3 separate regions of the Homo sapiens genome follow, and all the other regions are reported to be linked to region 1. The links are microRNA targets in miRTarBase. Many come from high-throughput screens and were not tested one by one. Region 1 holds a microRNA gene; each other region holds the end of a gene's coding sequence.
The links. Region 1 holds the annotated microRNA hsa-miR-629-3p (GUUCUCCCAACGUAAGCCCAGC, at 1,794-1,815, shown strand). A microRNA usually pairs through its seed, bases 2 to 8, with sites in the 3' UTR of a target mRNA and lowers its output. Matches are read on the target gene's strand: a 7mer-m8 pairs with bases 2 to 8, a 7mer-A1 pairs with bases 2 to 7 and ends in A, and an 8mer does both.

Region 2: miRTarBase lists RUNDC3B as a target of hsa-miR-629-3p. Seed matches in the 3' UTR shown: 7mer-m8 at 2,277-2,283.
Region 3: the mRNA of ZNF202 is a reported target of hsa-miR-629-3p. Seed matches in the 3' UTR shown: 7mer-A1 at 1,539-1,545.

What each region holds. Positions count from the first base shown.
Region 1 is chr15:70,076,139-70,081,201 of GRCh38, reverse strand. It overlaps MIR629 (microRNA 629), which reads left to right and starts at 1,734; the gene lies at 1,734-1,830. It overlaps TLE3 (TLE family member 3, transcriptional corepressor), which reads left to right. Exons shown (of 20, transcript NM_001105192.3): 5 at 5,044-5,063. RefSeq lists enhancers at 1,670-2,276, 2,277-2,883.
Region 2 is chr7:87,829,442-87,834,511 of GRCh38, forward strand. RUNDC3B (RUN domain containing 3B) reads left to right here. Exons shown (of 11, transcript NM_001134405.2): 11 at 444-2,855. The coding sequence ends at 589. It overlaps SLC25A40 (solute carrier family 25 member 40), which reads right to left. Exons shown (of 12, transcript NM_018843.4): 12 at 4,127-5,070. Among named protein-coding and RNA genes, the nearest start is that of SLC25A40, 44 kb to the right of the region's middle.
Region 3 is chr11:123,721,889-123,726,958 of GRCh38, reverse strand. It overlaps ZNF202 (zinc finger protein 202), which reads left to right. Exons shown (of 9, transcript NM_003455.4): 9 at 1-3,045. The coding sequence ends at 962. Among named protein-coding and RNA genes, the nearest start is that of ZNF202, 17 kb to the left of the region's middle.

The DNA.
Region 1 (5,063 bases):
ATTTTGCAGACAACGAAATTAATGCCTAGAGAAGGGAAGTGATTTGCCCAAAGCCACACAACTAAATGGAGGCAGAATTGGAGGTAGAAGCCAGCTCATCTCTGCGTGGCGTTGGAGCATAACACACTCTTTGAAGGGGCAGTTTTCTCTTCTCCTTGCCTTTATTTGGCTGAGGTTAAAAGGAATTGTGCATTCAGAGTCCACAGGTACACACGACAGGGCAGTTTAAAACTAACTAGCAGACAGACTCTCTGGTGGAAGTAGCTCTCGACGGTGTGTTGGACACAGTCACCTAAATTAAAAATAAGGGCAAGGACTGGCTGGGTGCTGCAAGCCCAGGAGCAGGAGGTTGCTGGGGGGTACAGATCAAGAGCAGGCTCCGTTTCCCTTAATTTAGTGTCTTGGGTCAAGGGCCAAGGATAGTCTGAAGTAGCAGCAAACGTGAATACTAGACTGTGGTTAGAGAAATAGACTTTTAGAATGCTCAAGTACCCTCGGTTTACAGCAAGATGTTCAGAGGTCCTGCTTTAATGAGGAGATGATCATGCAAATGGGAGCTACTAAGGCGCATGGAACAGATTGCTGTTTGGGAAATTACACTTGCCCCCCACTATCTTGTTTTCTGTCATTTATTTGCCTAACAATCTTGACAGAGATGCAGGGCAGATGTTACTCCCAGCGCCCAGTTGGTAGTGCAGATTCCGGATGTAGCAGGACCTCTGTCCCCATTTCTCTGAACTGCTTCTCTGTCTGTATCTAGTAGATTAGTTCCTTCTGAGGAACAATGTTTTTCCACCAACAAAGCGCCTGCTTTGAACCATACTTGAAAAGAAACTTTCAAAGGCGGCACCAGCCTCCCTGAACACCTTTTCCAAAGTGCTTTCCAAAGGGAGCCATCTTCCCACCTCCCACCACCTCTCAGATTCGCTTCTGAAGACCTGGCTCAAAAGCAGTGGCTTTGTGGGACCGAGATGGAGGGAAGGATGGAGGTCGGCCTCTGGAAACTACAGCCGCCTTATCGATAACGGATTGCGCCAAGTTGCCAAAAGGAGTTTTCCAACATACGATCGAGTTCCAGTTTGTGATTTGTGACCTGTCCCAATTGTTGAAGTCACACTTGATTTTTTTTTTTTTTTTTCCTTTTTTGGAACTGATGTTTAGAGCTTGTTTGAGTTGGATCCAATGCTGTTTTAACAGCTGTTCTAATCAGAAGTGCTGTCAATTATTAACCTTAATGGTGGTTTTTCTTTCAAAAATATTTCTCTAAGCTCTCTTGAAATGTCAAAATTTGGCTTCTTGGTAGGAAGTCATTTAGTGAAATCACTTAATGGCTGGGCATCAGTTTCCCCATCTGAAAAGTGGAGATGTTGACAAGCGCCTTCTCCGCGGGGTTATTGTGGATGCACACATGGCGAGTTGGGTGGGTGATATCAGCGGTCATTACTGTTGTTAGGAGGGCTTCTGTTAAGCCAGCTTTCCATTTCCAGGAACTTCCCCTCCCCCAAGCGCCACCCTCCAAAAAATAAACATTTCTTTAAAATGTTGAGCGAACAGCTTTCCTGTTCATGCTTTGACTCTGCAGAGTGCACGCAGCCCATTCTCAGGGTTGGGCAGCCTTTGTAGAGATGGGGGAGGCCCAATCCCTGCTTCCACTTTGTGGGGAGACCCCAAGAGGGTACTAGCAGATGATGGCACAGTGACAGCTGGGAGGGATGGGATGTGCTTGCTTCATGTCCCTTTCCCAGGGGAGGGGCTGGGTTTACGTTGGGAGAACTTTTACGGTGAACCAGGAGGTTCTCCCAACGTAAGCCCAGCCCCTCCCCTCTGCCTGCCTCAACCCTACACAGTCCTGTCTGGTGACGTGCCAAAGTCCTTCCTGCCTTGCAGAGAGGCCTCTCTTCGTCGAACATGGGCCTCAGGAAAGACAGCCTGAATGCCACTACCCCAGGCTTGTGGAAGGTTCTGCATCTGTGTGGCATTGTTGCGATAGCCCTCAGTTGATGCTTGTTTGTGGTGTTGGGAGGCAGGAACTACTTTAGGAGGGTGGAGGGGTGAGAATGAGAGAGGACTTGCCCTGAGCCACCCAGCTGTGGTCACCTGATGGCCCGGATGGCTACATAAATCCTGGGAGATCCGTTGTCCTCATAACCAGAGTGAGCTGGGCTCCAGACCAGCCCTATGGGAAGATCCTGTCTGTGGGAAGCCTTTGGCCACGTGTTTGCTGAAGGGTGTGGGGAAGGGCAAGGTCAGCTACGTTTCTTTTTTGTCAACTCCCGAGACCCTGACCCTTGGCCTGTTTACCAGTGGAAGGAGGCCATAGCCAGAACCCTTTTATAATCACCCTGCCTCCCTGCTCTCCCAGAGACTGTGAGAGTTAATAGTTGCTGAGGAGGCCAGAATGACTGGGGATGTTCTGACCTTGCCCCTGCCTTCCTGGCTGTGGGGAGGAGTAGTGGCCAGGGACCCATCTAGGTGGCTTGCGATTGGCCTGGCTTGGAGGTGCCACCCCACCCCGTTGGTGAAGGGCTTGGGCCACTGGCCACCAAGTGTATGTCAACACTCCATCCACCACGGCCCCTCCCACAGATGCTGCCCATGCTGGGGCAGGCCCAGATCCACAGCAAGGGGTCACTGCAATATGAAGTCTCAATAAATGCAGAGATGCCAGTGATACTATTCTTTGGGCCAAACATTTACGGAGCAGCTACTGTGTGCCAGACACTGCTCTATTGTTGTTTAAGATAACAGGCCTTGGACCTGTGAGCTTCCTAAACAGTAAGGTTGGTTTTTTTTGTTTATTTTTGTTTGCTTTTTGTTTTTTACATATCTTTCTATTCTTATTTGGTGCATGAACTCAAAGGTGAGAGAACTTGTTACTCTGCCGGTTTGGAGTGAGCTGCAGCCTATGCTTGTTTCTAGAACTCCTGCCCTATCCAACCCGGACTTTTTTGCTTCATTCCCCATTCCTACTATCAGTTGATTTAGGCGAGGAAAAAATAAGCAGAGTGAGGAAGGACCCTGTTTGGGAGAGCTCTTCCCACTTAACTAGATTAACAATTTATATAATGATTATTTAGTAATCCTCCTGGGTTCCTTAGAGTATGAATGACGGGTGTCTAGTGGGTGGAGAGGCCAGGGATGCTTTTAAAAGCCCTGCAGTGCACAGAACGGGCTCCACACAGCAGTGAATTATCTGACCTCAGATGTCAATAGCATGGTGTTTGAGAAACCCTGATGTATGGTGTCCTGGCTAGAGTGCCCCACACATGTGTCAATGTGGAGTCCCAGTGGGTCTGAGCTGGGCAGTTTGGAAGTGGGGGCCATTGTTGACACAGTTGGCCTGGGATATGAGCGACAGTCCTTTATAACAGGAATTGTCTCTCCCCAAATGCCAACAGTGGTGCTGGCTGGGAAACACTGACTCTGTTCCTGAGGAGCTAGAGTGTTCTAGGCAGAAAGCTGACAGCAGTGATTCCTGATCCTCTCCCTGCCAGGAACCCCCACTGTAGCGGACAGGCTCCGTAGGTTGGCGAGCCCTGCCACCGTGGCTGGCAGCCCAGGACACAGGCCTGCAAAAACCCATAAGGCTCTTTAGTTGATGGCCTGCCTTTCCACAAACCAGAGGCGTCCTCTTTAGTGGCCAAGGGTGGAGGGGGTGGAGGGTGTTAGCCCAAGGAATTCTCCCGAGGTCCAGGGTCTATTTATGCGCCTTCAGATTGTTTTTATTTTAAGTGCACAAGGATTTCTCATCCAGAATCATTTGACATGCAGATGATCACAGATTTTTAAAGGCTGTTGTCATGGTTTTGTCTCTGAAAGATTGCTATGTGCTGATGAAAGCTTTGAAGCCAGCTTTGGGACCTCAGTCCTGGCGGGCTCAGGATTCAGAATGAGATAAGAAAAGCAATTCTGAGAGTCGTCTGTCAGTGGTTCTAGGCCTTTCTATCTGGACTCAGTTAACCCGTATAGCACCACTCTTGATCTGAGATCTAAAGTTTACATAGGATACTGGTGGAAACTGTTGACTTTCTAAATGCAGTCTTTTCTAGGGTGTTGGGAGATGAGGCAGAGAATTGATCTACCTTTCTAAGATTGACTTCTGTGAGGGATTAGGGATCTAATGAATTACATCTCTGAGCAGCTTCTTAGACAAGGCAATGCTATATCCTAAAAAATGAAGTGTTGGCTGGGCATGGTGGCTCCTGTCTGTAGTCCCAGCCCTTTGGGAGGCCAAGGTGGGCAGATCACTTGAGCCCAGGAGTTTGAAACCAGCCTGGACAACGTGGCGAAACCCAGTCTCTACAAAAATACAAAAATTAGCTGGGAGTGGCAGTGCACCTATAGTCACAGATATTTGGGAGGCTGAGGCAGGAGAATCACCTGAGCCCAGGAAGTCGAGGCTGCAGTGAGCCAAAATCATACCACTGTACACCAGCCTGGGTGACAGTGAGACCCTGTCTTAATGGGAAAGAAAAAAAAAGAAAGAAGGCTTAATGGTAGGATTTTAGCCTGGTAGCATATATGTGGGGGAGGGATTGATCTTGGTGAGGGAGAGGCTAGTCCCAGGGAACCCTTTGCCACATAGGACCGCTTATCAGCTTAGTCCCATTTATCTGAGAGCTCATGTCCTATTGGCACTGGGCACCAGTGGGCAGAGCAATTCCTCTCTCACTAAACTGTGTTTCACTCTTACAGTGGGTTTTGCTGGGTTGTTGGGGGTGATTTTTATTTCGTTTTGCTTTAATTAGGGATTCCATCCAGAGGATGCAAACTATATTCTGAACCAGACATGTAGACTACCTCTGATGGAAATTGGAGCTCCCTAAAATGTAGGCAGCCTGGCTGCAAGGGAGTTGAAAGAGATTTCTTCATGCTGTGGATTTAGCTAGAGCCTCCTGGTAGGAGGCTGACTGAGGGCAGAAAGGATGGAGCCCCGTGGAGAGGGGCTGTGGTCTGGGGGGAGTTTGCATTTCCACTTGCCTATGACATTTCAGTGACTTGATTTATTTGCCTGAGCTTCATGTGGTCTCCTTGCCTTTGCAGACAGAGATTGCGAAGAGACT
Region 2 (5,070 bases), not on the chromosome of region 1:
GAATAGAGAGTCTTTTTCCCATTGCTTACTTTTGTCAACTTTGTCAAACATCAGATGGCTATACATGTGCAGCTTTATTTCTGGGTTCTCTATTCTGTTCCATTGGTCTTTGTGTCTGTATAACAGCACCTTTCTATTTTGGTTACAGCTTGAAGTTAGTTGATGTGATGCTTCTAGCTTTGTTCTTTTTTATTAAGATTGCTTTGGTATTTGTGCTTTTTGGTTCCATATGAACTGTAGGATTTTTTTTCTAATTCTGTGAAAAATGATGTTGGTACTTTAATGGGGATAGCAGTCAATCATGCAATTTGTTCTGTAGGTTTCTTTGGGCAGTATGGTCATTTTCACAGTATTGATTCTTCCAATTTCTAATGGTTTTAGGATCTTATTTGTATCATTCTTGAAGGGCAATTAATTATTTGCTATTTAATTCTAATTTTCAGGTAAGGAAGATACTCCCTCATTACTTGGCCTCTGTGGATCTCTAACGTCAGTGGCAAGTTACAAGTCTCTAACAAGCTTAAAATCTAATGACTACCTTGCAAGTCCTACAACAGAGATGACAAGTCCAGGCCTAACTCCATCCTGAAAATTTTTGTGTAAAAGCCAAAACTTTTTATGTTGTAAATGTTTAATTTACATGTTTGACTGCTGGGAAGACCTTTGAAATTTTATATTGTTCTGGTACATGTCTGAAATTCTATTGCTTGGAGAGAATCCCCTCCAGATAAGAGATTTTGAGTGAAAAACATAATGATCCTGCCATTTTTCATTTTTAAAATTCTTACATTTGTCATTGAGAAAGTTCAAAATGGAATAGGCTTTAAAAAAAAAAAAACTTTCAAAGATCCGCCAAATCATTCATAGCAAATTGTACATATTGTTCAGCTGATTTTTATATATTTAAATACACCTTAGTGGCCAGAGACTGACTTCAAGGTTTTATTCCAGAGACTCCAGAGACTTAAGCTAAGTATTTTTTCATTCTTTCAGATTTTCAAAAAAAAAAAAAAAAAAAGTTAATTTCATTTTTTCATTAATGTCTTCCTAAGTTCTATGCTTTAAATGCCTTGTTTTTAATAACGGGAAAGTTCTCAGCTGCATTTTCACAGTGGCTTATTCAGTTTTTCTTTAATATTTACCATTTGGTATCAATTCAGCATTCCACTTAACATTTTATAAATTCCATAGGAACATGCCTGTTTTGGTAGTTACTGACTTAATTTGTTAGTGCCACAAGGAAAATATTTTACAGTATTTTATGCCATTTAGGCAAAATGAATAAACTGTTTTCCAAGATTTTCTTAAAAGATTATCAATTTAAAAGTATGATCAAGTATGCCTCAAAAACTAGAAACATTTCAAAATGTAGAACAAACGTTGAAAAATTGTTTTGCCAGGAAAGAGTTCAAGTTCAGTTAAGGATTTGAGAGGCTTTTAAACAAGGATCAGTAGGATAGTTATCATATTTACTTAATATATGTCTGATATTCAGTGCTGGTTCTTTTTCCTGTTTGTGCAACAATGAAGTGTGTCATGTGTGTTTTATAGCCTCTATCATTAATCACACCAGAGTCTCATTTTAAAACATTTTAATGTTAAAACATCCCCACACTTATACACAGGTAAAATTAGTTTTTTTTTTTTTAAAGTTGTAATCTGTACTTTTTTTTTTTTGCAATTTTTGAAACAGCTACATTAATCCCTAAAAATCCCACCATACTGAAAATGTATGGCGTGTATTTTCTATAGTAAGTAATATGAGGAAAACATGATTAGCTGTGCCAAAGAAATTTTATACATTGTTTACATGATGAGGCCACAGTACTTACTGAGGACTTCATATGGTTTTTTTGTTTATTATTATTGAGAAAAGAGCTGAGGTTACCACATTCATTCTTTGTGTTAGAAATGTAGGAGTGTGGTGGTTTTCTGCAATATTTAGAGCTTAGTCTCATAATTTGGAATTTAAGATAATAAGTAGTAACAAGGCAAGTCTTTTATGTAAGACAGTCAAACAGTGTCACTTCAGGGACAAAGGCCTGGAAGCCCTTAAAATAAGTTATCTTAGATGTGCCAGAACATATTCAGAGCTTTATTCCTTTAAGCTTAAGGCTTCAATACTTGTAGAAATGCAAATATTCTTGAGAAATGATACATTTTTTGTTCTCAATTTCTCAATTCTACATACCTGATTATGAGTGAAGTATCCAAAGCAGGTTTTCATCAGCATGGGGGATGGAAGGTAGGTATAATATGAGGACAATGGAAACTTTGGGAGAAGGGAGTGAGGAAATGGATAAAGAGAAATTTGAAAATTTTAGGCTGGACTTGAGCACTATTGCTGCTTTCCTATGAACTATCAGAATGTTTAAATGCTTTATCATTCATGGTCCACTCTCAACCAACATTTATTATCCTTTAGTAATTAAACAATGGTTTTACATACATTTTTATAATGTAGAAGGAAATTCAAGATTCCATAATCGTAAAATTTTTCAGATTTGTCTAATGTGTAATTTGTGCATCTTCACATGCTGCTAAATGCAGATTTAAACATTACATCTGAGGATCATGACTTTTCCTCCTTTCTTGGAGATCTTGGTATAAAATTCATCTGCTGTTATAAAATCAGGTTTCTACAGAGTTCGTTTCACACTAAAGGTAGTTTGTTACTGTTTGCATGAGGAAACCATGTATGTCTCAATCTTTAATTTTAGGTGGTAGTGTTTATTGTTCACCCTCCCTCTTGCCTCCAAAAGAATGCTGAATTATACGCCAATATTTCCATGTGTATTCTGTTGCCTTGATGCGTACTATACTTGTTGCATGTATATTAAAAATTTTGTACTATGCATTGGTGGTCTTATTTTGCTTGACAAAAAGTTACCTGATTTAAGTACACTTAACTTTTGTTTCAGCAAATGTGGTAAATATATATTATTTCACACCTAAAATACTAACATGAAAATGGAATGGGAGAAATCCTTATTTCAACTCACATCAAGTTAAATATCCTATTTTTTAAAAGTAACATGATATGCTTTAGAATACACAACATCTATTCAATCAATCAGTACAGTTTAGTAGTGGTTCTGGCAGTGTTACTGATTTAATTATAAAATAGTCATGTTTGTTTTCTCACCTGTAAGAATCATCACTATCTTCTTGGCACCTAAGAGATGGCATCAGGATGATGTAAGCATTAAATAAAATCATATATAAAAGAAGTTCTAAAGAGATAAATGCCAAATGCAAGCTACTACTAATTATGAGTGGCAGAAAAAGTAGATCATAAGTTAGTTGTTAAATCATTAGATTTACATACAGTTTTAAGTGGTTATCAATGTGTCCCAAATTTACAACTTAGAAAACTGCTTTGTTAAAGTTCCTATCATTAGATGAAATGTGCAGATTTTGCTAAACTAAACTAACATATTGGATTACCACTTAAGTGTCACAAGACTGTTGTTCATTCTGCTCTTCTGAAAGCAAAGCAGCTTCGATTTAGTTTTAGCATTTGTCATTTTAACTGATTGATAGGAAAGGGAAGCTAAAATTACCTCTTTTTCATTATGGTACATTTAAAAAGCATATTTTAATACAAACCAAAACTTTTAGATTTTAACATAGATCACCTTATCATAAGCCCCATTTTCCATACTGCTGGGTATCTTCCAAAACCCAAGTCTAACTAACTGTTACAACTTTGCCAAAAAGTTTTTCCTAGGTTTCTCACAGCCTTCTTGTTCCTCCTTAAGCGCACAAGGCCTTAGATTACATTTCCATGTTTACACTTTCCCATGTATACACTTTGTTCAAGCCATATGGACTAAATTCTATTGCCTTATTGAGACTCCCACTTCCCTGCATGTTTACTTATTGGATTGCCTGTCTGTCAGTCCAACTCAGGTTTCCTGACCACTCCCCTTCTCTGCCCCCAGGCTGAGTGAACAACTCCCCATATTTCCCATGACTCCCTTTGTATGTTTCTATCAATCACTCAATCATAGCTCTGAAACCTCCTGTGGCCAGTAACAATATCTGAAATATCTTATCATCTCCAGTGCTTTTTATATACTGCCTACTACATAAAATGTCCCAATAAATGTTGACAGATTAAATATAAAAGCAGTAATATCTTTTATTTAAAAAGTTCATCTTAGAAGAAAATTCAAAAGGGATACAATAAACTTTTCCATATCCCAAAAACTTGTGCCCAAGACAAAAAGAGGGAAGAATTTAAGTTTAGGGGTACATATGCAGGTTTGTTACACAGGTAAACTTTTGTGTCATGGGGATTTATTATACAGATTATTTCATCACCCAGGTATTAAGCCTAGTACCCATTAGTTATTTTTCCTGTTCCTCTCCCTCCTCCCACCCTCCACCCTTTGATAGGCCCCAGTACATGTTGTTCCAAGAGGGAAAAATTTAAAAAACATATGCAGTTAAATAACCATAATGAATAGTTTTCCTAGAAAAAAAAATATTGCCTTTTAAAAAAAATCAAATATGTACTACTTTAAAGGTTGCAACCATCTCATATTGAAAATTAAAGATGTTCCTTCCTAAAATTTTACATTAATCAATTAAATGTTTATGTTAGAAAATTTAACATTAATAGAATAAAAACTGTTTTAGAAACATCACCAAGAACACTGTTGTGGCACATGTTTGCAAATATTGCAATTCCTGCAACATCATATGTATTGAAAAGTCTGGAAAGCCCATGTGGCTGAGAGTTAAATTTATATACTGAAGTAAAACCTGGGAATATTCATCATGCCAATTATAGTTCAATTATTTTATCAGACAGAACTCTGAGAGCAAATTAAAATTTTAAAATTTTACCTATTCCATAGACTGAATTTTTCTAGGTACTATTTTAATACAAATTATTATTATAGCAAAATTCTGAACACTTTTTGGTTGTTAGTATATTTTAAAAGTATTAATATTTCTTTTTACCTCTTAAATATAAAGAAAGCTTCAATTCAGCCTTCTATTCATCCAGATACATTGCATGTATATGTGTTAAAAAAACGACTAGGCAATTAGATTTACTTA
Region 3 (5,070 bases), not on the chromosome of region 1:
AGCAGGAAGATCTGAGTTTGGAGGATATACACAGGCCTGTTTTGGGAGAACCAGAAATTCACCAGACTCCAGATTGGGAAATAGTCTTTGAGGACAATCCAGGTAGACTTAATGAAAGAAGATTTGGTACTAATATTTCTCAAGTGAATAGTTTTGTGAACCTTCGGGAAACTACACCCGTCCACCCCCTGTTAGGGAGGCATCATGACTGTTCTGTGTGTGGAAAGAGCTTCACTTGTAACTCCCACCTTGTTAGACACCTGAGGACTCACACAGGAGAGAAACCCTATAAATGTATGGAATGTGGAAAAAGTTACACACGAAGCTCACATCTTGCCAGGCACCAAAAGGTTCACAAGATGAACGCGCCTTACAAATATCCCCTAAACCGGAAGAATTTGGAAGAGACCTCCCCTGTGACACAGGCTGAGAGAACTCCATCAGTGGAGAAACCCTATAGATGTGATGATTGCGGAAAGCACTTCCGCTGGACTTCAGACCTTGTCAGACATCAGAGGACACATACTGGAGAAAAACCCTTCTTTTGTACTATTTGTGGCAAAAGCTTCAGCCAGAAATCTGTGTTAACAACACACCAAAGAATCCACCTGGGAGGCAAACCCTACTTGTGTGGAGAGTGTGGTGAGGACTTCAGTGAACACAGGCGGTACCTGGCGCACCGGAAGACGCACGCTGCTGAGGAACTCTACCTCTGCAGCGAGTGCGGGCGCTGCTTCACCCACAGCGCAGCGTTCGCCAAGCACTTGAGAGGACACGCCTCAGTGAGGCCCTGCCGATGCAACGAATGTGGGAAGAGCTTCAGTCGCAGGGACCACCTCGTCAGGCATCAGAGAACACACACTGGGGAGAAACCATTCACGTGCCCTACCTGTGGAAAAAGCTTCAGCAGAGGATATCACTTAATTAGGCATCAGAGGACCCACTCAGAAAAGACCTCCTAGCTAGGTCCCCATGTGAGGAGATCTGCTTTCAGCCCTCACCTAAGGGAGGTGAGGAAGAGGAAAAGCCCTCTTGTCAGCCTGGGAAGACCTTTTCGAGGGAGTCTCCCTGACCTGCTCAGATCTGACATTACCTCTTCCTGCAACTAAACACGAGCCTGGGCAGAACCTCTCAGCCTTCCTCTACGCCTTGAGGGGATGTTTCATCCAAAGTACAACCTGAATTGAGGCTTCTCCTTCACTGGAGTGCACCTGCCTCTACCTCATGGGTATAAAGTAGGAGAACTAAGAGACTTAAGAGGTCGTGGTTCCTATATCGTCCAAAAAATAGGCTGTTACATATCCTAAAGACTGCTCAACAGCTTCAAGTTGAAAGTGGCCAAGGACAGCCCCTTAGGTTTGGGAAGGGACGAGCCTGAAGGATTCTGTCTTTACTGGGGTCAAATCTTAAAGCACACAGCTCTGGACTCAAGACAGGAGGTTTGCGTCCTGATGGCTTTGCCACACATTCACAGGATAACTGCATAGATCCCTCGCTGTCTGATTCACTTCTTACCATGCACTTTCCTTTGATGCTGAGGAGAAATGGAAGTGGGCGAAAAATCTCAAGGCTGCTTCATGTGGACCTTGTCAAGCTGCTCCCTCCCCCAGCGTCAAATTGTTATCAGGTGCCAAACACTGCTAGAAAGGAGGGCCTAGTCAGAAGCCTCTTTCCATACGAGTTTTGGTTTTGTTTTTAATATTTTTTTCTATTAAAATACTCATGCATTTAACCTTCCCGTTATTCAACCAGTCTCTTGGTTGCATCCCTAGCACTTCTACTACAAGTGAGATGGTAGTGTTTGAGTGCTTATTGAGTAAAGCATAATTCGGTCATAATGAAATCGTTCACATTCCCTCATATGCACAAGCCCACCAACCCCTTCACACCCCCCTTCACAGGGGTCGTATGAGTAAGGGGATTTGGAAACTGTCAACTTACAAAGGCACTATAACAATTACAGAATCATGATTGCCATGGGCCACTTTATTTACATGAAGACAACTGGAGAACGACTAAGACCAAATTATGGAAAATAAGAAAAAGCTGTTGCTGGCAAGACCATCAAGACTGTTCTGACACCCTGTCCCCATCATCCCTGACTGAGTACTCTGACATCACGGAAAGTGTTGAACCTGGGACCCTGAGGAATTCACCAGGAGTAAATGGCTTTCATGTATTTGTGTTGTTTGCTTTTTCTTACGTGATTTTATGTTCATAGAGCTAGAAAGTAGCATCTCATGATGGCCCAACAATCTCTGTTGCCAGTTAAAGGTTCCTTGGAGATGAGGCTGAATAATTATGAACCTCACCTTCTCTGATTGTGGGAGTGGCAAGAACTGGGGAGACGTCCTCCATAAGTGGAGCACAGGGTATGGGGTTAAAGCATGACAGGGAGAGTCTTCTGTGCCTGGTTTCTTCTCCTCTATCTCATAATGCATTATGGGCCCGAGGAATAGGGGAGGGTTAATAAGACTCCAACCCTAATGGCCCAACAGGGAAATTCTCATTTTGGTCGATGATATTCTGATGGACTGGTTTGGTCTTAATACCAGTCAACCGTTGTCCTTCTGGAAATATACATATATGAAATAAATAAAGGTAACACTTGCAGCCAAGTTCCCTGGTTTCTGGGACTTCCCATCTTACCCATTCCTTTTCCAGGGCTTCAGTGTCCTGATACTTCTGAGGGTGGTTCATACTCAAATAGATCTGGGAGTACAGAGTATTTTTCCTTGAGGAAAGGAAGGGTTGGGATGATTAGCAGAGTCCGGTGAAACATATGCACTCTGAGATAAGATCCAAGCCTGGAGTTTGCAGAAGATACTGTCCTAATAAGCAGGCATTTCTAAACCAAGTATCTAAGCCTAAGCACAGCTTGTCCTGGGTGAAATGTCTGCCACAAAAGATAGTTTCTCCTAGCTCAGACTTAACCATTTATAAAGGTTGGTAAAATACTGGCAGTGACAACAAATTGACTTTTTAATTTTCTTATTTGCATTATTCCAATAAATGAAAATCTGTCAGAGTTCTACATGAGGGAAAGCTTGTGAGGCTGGGCCGGTTTGTTGGAACATCAAATAGTCCTTAATTACTGATCTCCCTGCAGAGTTTCATATGCTGACACTAAATCTCTGGTCCCTTTTGTAAATTACTGAATTTTCTGAGGTTCTGGGAGGGACATGTTGTCTCCCAAATCTGAACAAACACAACCACAGTGTGCAGCGGCAGGAAAGAAGTAGTGCAGCTGAGCGTGAGCAGGGAGGTTGGAGCACAGGGTGTGTATTCGGAGGGGTCCCCTCTAGTATCTTGTGAGCAGTAGAATTCTAGCATCCTTGAATACCATACTAAGTTTCTGAGGGAGAAAACGGTGGGATTTTAAAGATATTATTTGGAGGAAGTTAATACGCTACTTAATTAACAGAAGTGGCAGGTGGTTGGAAATGTGCTAAAGAGGTATGACACATTAAAAATGATAATATAAGGATGTTTGACCAGATAATTTAGGAATAACCAAGGAATATTTAACCTCTTCACCACAAAGTCCGAGGAGAAATAAATGCCCAAGAGATCAAGCCAAAATACATTTTTATTATCTGGGACTTAGGCCTCATATTCCGGAGCAGAATCCGGTAAACTCAGATGAACTCCATGGAGAATTTCATAAATCAGATTAACATCAAGGTACTAAAATCAAAACCCACTAAGAAACCTGTTGCCCCCTTCAAAGCACAACTGAAGTAATGGATCTAATAGAAGATACATTGTTTGCACTGAGCAGTAGAGTAGTAGAGGAGAAAAGCCCAGAGATGGCACAGACAAGTTGTTCCAGTCCCCTTCAGTCAAGGCCTCTGGACCACCACCCTGCCACAGGCGAAAAATGGGATATTTAATAAATAAAAAATTTTGATTCACCAGACTGGCTGAAAGGACAGTAATCCAAATGAGAGTTAACGGCTCCATAGTAGTTTTCTAGAATGAAAGCTGAACTGAGAAATAGTAACTGATGACATGTTGAGCAGGTTAATAATTTGGTACCCTTCCACACCAGTATTTGTTTGTTTGTTTGTTTTGAGATGGAGTCTCGCTCTGTCGCCCAGGCTGGAGTGCAGTGGCGTGATCTCGGCTCACTGCAAGCTCCGCCTCCCGGGTTCACGCCATTCTCCTGCCTCAGCCTCCCCAGGAAGCTGGGACTACAGGCACCCACCACCACGCCCGGCTGATTTTCTGTAATTTTGGTAGAGACGGGGTTTCACCATGTTAGCCAGGATGGTCTCGATCTCCTGACCTTGTGATCCGCCTGCCTTGGCCTCCCAAAGTGCTGGGATTGCAAGCGTGAGCCACCGCACCTGGCCCCACACCAGTATTTTTAAAAATAGTTTGTTTTACCTCTAGCGTCTTCCCTCAGCTGACCTAAATAGTCCAGCCACAATAGCTGAGAGAAATATACCTACAATTATTTCCATCTCCTTATATTTCTAGTGATGTTGGCTGACTAACCCACTAATCTAGTTTATGGGAGAGGGAAAGACTGAAAGAGCCACAAAGTGGATGGCCAACCCACGTGATTACTAACCTTTATTGTGGCAAAGTAACTGATACAATGTTTCAAATGTAAGCACATCTCCTTGGAATAAGTGGAATAACTTAATTCATCCTTGCGGAAGTCCTGAGGATCAAGCAAGGAGGAGCCCAGCTTTCTTTAGACACCACCTTTTTTATCTTTAATAACAAAAAGGAACAAAGTGATTGTCAGACCAGCACAAAGATACCTCTTAATGTGCAATTTCTATTCTCTTTAGTGTGTGTGAGTGCACGCATGCACGTGTGTACACCGAGGTTTCAGGTAGAAGGAGGAATGCAATTCAAATTCTAAAAAAGGAATCAGTCAGCACAAACTAGTTTATTTGGCAATTCATAAAGATAGGGACTCTTCAGAGGAGGTTGAGAGCATTGTAGGGTTATGTAAAGACTTCCAGAAGCTGTAAAGACTTCCAGAAGCAAGAAGATTCAACCATCTAAAACGCCATGCAGGAAAATAGCCAAACCTTCTCCATTTAAGTAGAGAAT